Homo sapiens: one gene and its partner. The protein of the gene in region 1 purifies or fractionates together with the protein of each later gene. This does not show direct contact. Each region holds a gene or a part of one and is shown on either strand. Other genes may lie near its edges. The genes, in order: GRM4 and CD99L2.

Region 1 (3,500 bases):
CAAAAGACAACCACTGCCATGTGCCAAGCACTGTTCTAAGTGCTTTACCTACATTTTCTCATGTAATCCCCACATCCCTATGAGCTTCATGGTATTTTTATCCCTATCTCACAGATGAGGAAGCCAAGGCACCAAGTGCTTAAGCAACATCTAGCCAGGGGCACAGAGCTTGTGCAGGCTGCCCGTGCCCCTGGCTGCTCCTCTGTGCTGGCCCAGAGGATCTCTCAGGCCTTGCCAGTTCTAAGGTCCTGTGAGTTTATGATCGGTTTCCATGAATTTCAAACAGAGGGCTTTTTGGCATCATGACAGGCTGTGTGCTGGGGCTACAGCAGGGCAGATTCAGGCTGGGAGACCAATGCACAGCAGCTTTTGAAGTCAGGCCCTGCTTAGGCTTCCAGATCCTTCGTGAGGGCTCACACTGGCTTCTCCTTGAGGCCGGAGCACGTCTGGGCTGAGCAGTGCATGCGCGCGTGCGGACACACACACACACACACACACACACACACACACACACACACGGGGAAGGACAGATGCCATGGGGGAAGGAGGCCTCCAAGAGGAGAAAGGCAAACACCCGCAGATTAGAATCAAGAGCCTGGAGCCTCAAGCTGGTCAGATCCCCTGCGAGACTTCCCTCCCACAGGACTGGGTCCCAGCCCCTGCCCACAGGTCCCTATCCACCCCTCAGTCCCACCAGGCCTGCCTTTTCTGAGCTTCTCCAGAGAGCTGGGCAAGCCACTGCCTCTTTTAGCTTCCCCTCCCTCCTTTGATCATGTAACAGGAACAAGGGAAAAGTAAAAATACCCCATGAGTGAAAGGAGCCACTGAGAGCAGAGGCAGGGTGTGGTGGGGTGGGTTGGGGTGGGGGCCAGGCGGATGCTCCCTTCCCCCGCAGGGCCTGCTTCCTTCTGCAGAGGGAAGAGCTGGGGGCACATAGAAGGGGTCCTTCTTTAAAGTCCTTGCCCAGTTTTCAGACACTCCCCCGCCAATTCCAAAATAGCCAGGAGAGCTCAAGCCTGGGTCAGTTAGGGGCATCCTTCCCCAGGTGAAATCATCGGGATGACTGTGAGTCCAAGCCAGTGTGGGCCCCACCCCCAGACGGGCCTCTTCCCCCTTTCCTTTCCTTCTCCCTTCCCCACCACCCTCTCCCAGTCTCTCTCCTCTTCTCTGGCTCCACTAGGTTCCTTGGTTCCAGGGGAGGACAGAGCCAGGCATGGAGGAATGAGAGCCCTGAGGGGCAGGGATGAGAGCGACTGGGTCACCTCCACATAGCAACAGCTCTCAGGCCAACAGTGTTTTCCAGAACATTCTTTCCAGTGAATGGGGATGTAAGGGGAGCTGGTGGGGGACAGCTGCAGACTACCCCTTTCCCCAACCAACAGTCAGGGTAAGGGGGATGGGGGAGTCCCCACACATCCCAGCTGGGACCTCTCTGTTATCTAGGGCTTTTGTGCAGGAACTCCAGGAACCTGCCTTGTGGCCACTTCTAAGTCCCTTTTTTTTCTTTTTTTTTTGAGACAGGGTCTCATTCTGTTGCCTAGGCTGGAGTGCAGTGGTGCAATCACGACTCACTGCAGCCTCAACCTCTCAGGCTCAAGCGATCCTCCTACCTCAGCCTCCTGAACAGCTGGGACTACAGGAATGCGCCATCATGCCCACATAATTTTTTTTTTTTTTTTTTTTTTGCAGAGATGACATCTCACTATGTCGCTTGCCCAGGCTGGTCTCGAACTCCTGAGCTCAAGCGATCCTCCAGCCTCAGCCTCCCAAAGTACTGGGAATACAGGTGTCAGCCACTTTGCCCGGCCCTCTTCTTAGTATAATATTAACAAGCAGGACCTTCGTGCTTTTCCAACTTCAATCCTTCCCTCTGCATCCAGGGCCCAAGCCAGAAAGAACCACAAACCACAAAACAACAACCGGATCCGAAGAGAACTGCTGTGATTTACCAAACCCCCAATTATTTTTCATTGAGTTTCTTTTTATTCTTCCAAAACTAAGAAAATAGAACAAAACCCAAACACCAGAATAAAGGGTAAATCGAGAGAACAACCTTGTCCTTTGTTTCCCAGGGTCAGGGTCATTGCCAGAGTCCCTGGTTCCTGCTCTTGGCCCTCTGAGGGTCAGCTCCCATAGGAAAAGGGCTTGGGGACTCAGGCCCGAGCCCCTTGGGGTTCAGCAAAAAGAGCCAGGCCAAGAGCTCCCTCCCACCTTCCTCTCAGCTCCCAACCTTCCCTGTGTTCCCACCAGCACTTCCTTCATCTCCATTCACCTTTGTCTCTGCAGGGCCCACCCAGCCCAGGTGCTCAGGAGCGCTCTAGAATTGTGAATGGCTGTGTGGAGTCTGGTTTCAATTCCTGAGCTGTTTAGATGCCTCATCACCCACATCCCACATCTCCCAGAAGGGGGATGGCAGCGCCACTGCCCCAAAGGGGAAATGAGGGAGAACTGGAGGCCTCTCCCCTCCCCTCAGCTCTGTGACCCCTCTGCTATCCATCCGGGCCCCCACTGGCTGGGCAGAGGTGTGGTTTGTAGGACAGGACAGGAATCGGGTTGTCAGAACTGTGCCACCCCTGCCAGCTGCACTGTGCGACTCGCAGGCCATGGGGAAGGTGGATGACCAGTTAGCCCTTCAAATCCTCGCAGCACAGCCCTCCTCGTGCTGACCTCTGCAGCCCAGTCCTGCACAGAGCCTGGCATCCCCAGCAGGCTTTGTGGAGGTGAATGAATGACGTGATGTGAGCCAAATGATTCCAGGGCCTCTCGTTCAAGTAATCTATCTCTGTGTTTAAGGCCCCTTCCATAAGCAACTCTTTAACCCACAGGACTGATTCTAATGGTGGAATGTGAGGCATAGTTTCAGGCAGGGAAACTAAGGATTGATTCAGCTATAAGGAGGCATCTTGGAACCTTCAACCCACCCCAGGCCAGCTGGGGCTTTATTCTGCCTAAAGAGAAGCCCTGCTCCCAGGCAGTCAGCCAGAATGGCCACAGCCGCATGCTAAGAGCTAAGAGCAAGAAGCACAGTGGGGGTCTGGCCCCAACCGGCTTCCCTTTCCTTCCCCCGTGAGCTGCTCCGGCTCACCAGCCTCGACCAGGAAGCCTCCTGATGTCAGAAATCCCAGACCCCAATCCACAAGCTGTCCCCTCCCTGTTCTGCCAAAACAACAGGGCCCTGATTCAGAGGCAACTGGCTCTGTCATGGGCATGGGGTGGAATGCCCCAGAGGAGAGCAGGGAGGGAAAAAAGGAAGGTAATTCTTAGGGAAAGAGGAAGTAATTCTTTTGCCTAATGCCAGTGTAAACTTGGAGCAGAAAACTTTAAATCCATTGCCCCTGCCTTCCCCCAACCTATGATTCCCTCCAGCCTCCTCTCTGTGAAGCTCTCCCTTCAAGAAGCAGCTGAGATCCTTCCTCCTCCAGGAAGCCTGCCCTGATTATTACAATTCTTGTCATCTCCTTCCTCCGCAGTTAATGACACAGAACCTCTCTCATGTTAAC
Region 2 (4,014 bases), on another chromosome or scaffold:
GTCACCACACCTGGCTAATTTTTTGTATTTGTAGTAGAGGCGAGGTTTCACCGTGTTAGCCAGGATGGTCTCAATCTCCTGACCTCGTGATCCGCCTGCCTCGGCCTCCCAAAGTGCTGGGATTACAGGCGTGAGCCACCGTGCCCGGCCTCCTGTTCTGTTCTTTTCCCCACCTGGTGTTTTGCTTTTTCTGCTGTGTGTTCACTCTTAGGTGGGTTTATTTATTTATTTATTTTTATTATTTTTTTCCTTCGAGATGGAGTTTCAGTCTTGTTGCCCAGGCTGGAGTGCAATGGCGCGATCTTGGCTCACTGCAACCTCTGCCTCCTGGGTTCAAGCAATTCTCCTGCCTCAGCCTCCCGAGTAGCTGGAACTACAGGCATGTGCCACCACACCCGGCTAATTTTTTGTATTTTTAGTAGAGATGGGGTTTCTCCATGTTGGTCAGGCTGGTCTCCAACTCTCGACCTCAGGTGATCCACCTGCCTCAGCCTCCCAAAGTGCTGGGATTACCCAGCTCCCAAAGTGAGCCACCACGCCTGGCTCACTCTTAGGTTTTGTACTTTGCATGTTATTCCTCTTCTGCTCTTGGGTGCCTGGGAGGACTGGCTCAAGGGGTTCCTGTCCCCCAATCCAGACTGGACCCTCCCTGAGGCTAGGTCCATGACTGGTGAATGTTGGTTTGCATGCAAAAGCTTAACGTCATCGTAGACACCTATCAAGAACGGGCTGGAAAATCTTTCATGTAGGCACATGTTCCACATGGAGTGGGGTGGGAGGCTGTGGTAGAAAGAATAATAATGAGCCCCCAAAGACATCCACGTCCTGATCTCTGGAACCTGTGAATATGTTAGGCTCCATGGCAAGGGAAATTCAGTAAGGTAGCCGATGGAATTCAGGCCGCCAATCTGCTGACCTTAAAATATTATTATCCTGGATTATCCAGGTGGACCCAATGTAATCACCCGGGTCCTTTAAATACAGAAGAGGGAGGTAGAAGAGTCGGGGATTAGAGCCATGTCATATGGGAAGGACTCGCCTGGCCATTGCTGGCTTTGAAGATGGAGCAAGGGGCCAGGAACCAAGGACCACACAGCCTCTAGAAGCTGGAAAAGACAGGGAACAGATTTTTCTCTAAAGCCTCCAGAAGGAACACAGCCCTGCCCACACCTTGAGTTTAGCCCAATGAGACCTGGGTTGGACTTTTATCTCTAGAACTGTGAGATAATAAATGGGTATTGTTTTAAACTGTTGAATACAGTATATTTTGTTATAGCCAAAACAGGATGCTAGTAAGAAGCTAAGAGTTAGATACTAGCATCCTCTTCCTTGTTTGGAAAACTAGTATGTGATATTTCCTTACATTGTTTCAGTTTTACCATTTTAAAATCAATCCCTAGAATGCTCTAAGTTCAGCATTTTAAAATAAATGTGCAGAAAATTGGGTTGTAATGATGTTTTTGGTGCAGCAATGAATGTTTAGAAGCATATCTGAGGGCCCAGGAAGGTAGCTGGATTTCTGGCGCTTGCATTTGATTCCAAACTGCTTTACAAGGGGATGGGAGCCTGCACTTCTGCTTTGGAGCATGGCCCATGTTGCAGGCCACCTGCAGTGGGGGCCACTGGCTGTCTCCAGAGGCCTTTCCCACCCTTCTCCTCCAGTCCTGATGGCCGCACTTGAAGCAGGATGCAGCCTGGGGCCAGCAGACAGAGGGTTTCTGATTTGTGCAGGCCGCACTTGCCCCTTCGCTGAGGACGAGGAGGAGTGTGCTGCCAGCCTGCCTTTCTCCTGGCTGCCCTTACCAGTGCTGTGGCTTCAGCTAATTGTGTCCATTCCCTCTCTCTCAAGGTGGGGGCGGGGGTGTGGGGAGAGGACCAGACAGGAATGGGTGCACCTGAATCCCCCACTCCCACTTCAACCAGTGTTGTTTTTTGTTTGTTGGTTTGTTTTTTGAAAGCAAGTTTATTTTTATTTTATTTATATTATTATTTTTTGAGACAGAGTTTTGCTCTTGTCACCCAGGCTGGAGTGCAATGGCGCAATCTCGACTCACTGCAACCTCCGCCTCCCGGGTTCAAATGATTCTCCTGCCTCAGCCTCCTGAGGAGCCGGGATTACAGGCGCCTGCCACCTCGCCCAGCTAATTTTTGTATTTTCAGTAGAGACGGGGTTTCACCATGTTGGCCAGGCTGGTCTTGAACTCCTGACCTCAGGTGATCCACCTGTCATGGCCTCACAAAGTGCTGGGATTACAGGCGTGAGCCACTGTGCCCAGCCTGAAAGCAAGTTTATTTATTTATTTATTTATTTATTTATTTATTTTGAGACGGAGTCTCGCTCTCGCCCAGTCTGGAGTGCAGTGGTGCGATCTCGGCTCACTGCAAACTCCGCCTCCCGGGTTCATGCCATTCTCCTGCCTCAGCCTCCCGAGTAGCTGGGACTACAGGCGCCCACCTCCACGCCCAGCTAATTTTTTTGTATTTTTAGTAGAGACGGGGTTTCACCGTGTTAGCCAGGATGGTCTCGATCTCCTGACCTTGTGATCCGCCCGCCTCGGCCTCCCAAAGTGCTGGGATTACAGGCGTGAGCCACCGCGCCCGGCTAGCAAGTTTATTAAGAAAGTAAAAGAATGAAAGAATGGCTACTCCATAGGCAGAACAACTCCACTTCAACCAGTTTTGAGCTTTGTTTTTATTAGTTTTCTACCTCGGGCTTCTCACAAGATGTCAGAACGTTCTGCTGCTTTACAGCAGAAATATCTTTGAAAACTGCTGTAGTTGAATCCTATAGATATGACACCCCTGTTCAGTGAACATCTGTGTAGAGGAGAAGCTAGAAAACATCTAGCTGTCATTGTTAGGTGGTTGTATTTGGGATTATTTTCTAAATTAGAGGTGATACTCTCCACAGGAAGTATTACTGCAGTGTGGAATTTATTTCCACCAAAATAGTGCCCAGGCACAGCCGGGGCTCATTTTGACCTTCTACTTTTGTTTTTTTTTTTTTATTGCTGCTTCAACTAGCCTGGGATGGTGGAACTATATTGGGTATTTCTTTCAGCCTAAGGGCAATGTGGGGGAAAAAAAACTGAGATGTGAATGGCACTTGAGATACTAAGGAAACCCATGGGCTAACCCCAGGGAGGCCAGAGGACAAAGAAGCCCTTTGATGAAGCTCATACCGGTCAGTGGCCTGGGACACAGAGAGTGGATCTGAAGGGCAGATGGCAGGCAGCAGGCCTTATCCTGAATGAGCAGCCAGGACCCGTGTGGGGGCACTGTGGGTGAAACAGAGCAGGGTAAAACATGCACCTGCCCTCAAGGAGATTAAAGTCCAGACAGACCTGGAAGCAACTATACATAGTCACATGTATCTTAAAAGACACACAAGGATTCCATTATTGCTGTAGTGCTATCTGCCAAGAGGACACTTGCCCCCTTTCTCCCAGGTTGAAGGCCGTTGCTGTCGCCTATTGCTGCATAATGAACCTCCACACATTAGTGGCTTGAAACAACTGTTTACTATGCTCTTAGACTCCATAGGTTGGGAATTAGGATAATGCAGCAAGGATGGCTGTCTCTGCTCTACTGTATCTAGGACCTCAGCTAGGAGGACTCAAATGGCTGGGGGCTAGAATCATCTGGAGGTTTTTTTTTACTCACATGTCATAAAGGATGGGCTTAGCTGGGGCTGTCCACTGGAACACCCAAATGTGGCCTCTCTGGTTTGAGCTTCCTTATAGCAAGGCAACTGTATTTGAACTTCTTACATAGCCCCTTCAGGTTCTAAGCATGAACATTCCAGTAGACAAGGTAGAAAACAGATGGGCTTAGAAACCTTTTAAAAATTGTGGTAAAATACACATAACATTTACCATTTTAACCATTTTAAGGCACACAGTTCAGTGGCATTAAATACTTTTTTTGTGTGATCATCATCATTCCCCCTCCCCTAACCCCTGGCACTGGCTCATCTGCTTCCTATCTGGATTTGCCCATTCTGGACATTTCATA

Evidence for each region.
Region 2: the proteins of GRM4 (region 1) and CD99L2 purify together in Homo sapiens (affinity purification with mass spectrometry; one large-scale study listed by BioGRID and IntAct). This does not show direct contact.

The regions. Positions count from the first base shown.
Region 1 is NC_000006.12:34,136,088-34,139,587, forward strand, and holds part of GRM4 (metabotropic glutamate receptor 4 isoform 1 precursor), read right to left. Parts: intron 1-3,500.
Region 2 is NC_000023.11:150,888,461-150,892,474, reverse strand, and holds part of CD99L2 (CD99 antigen-like protein 2 isoform 1 precursor), read left to right. Parts: intron 1-4,014. UniProt on the Homo sapiens protein: Plays a role in a late step of leukocyte extravasation helping cells to overcome the endothelial basement membrane. Acts at the same site as, but independently of, PECAM1.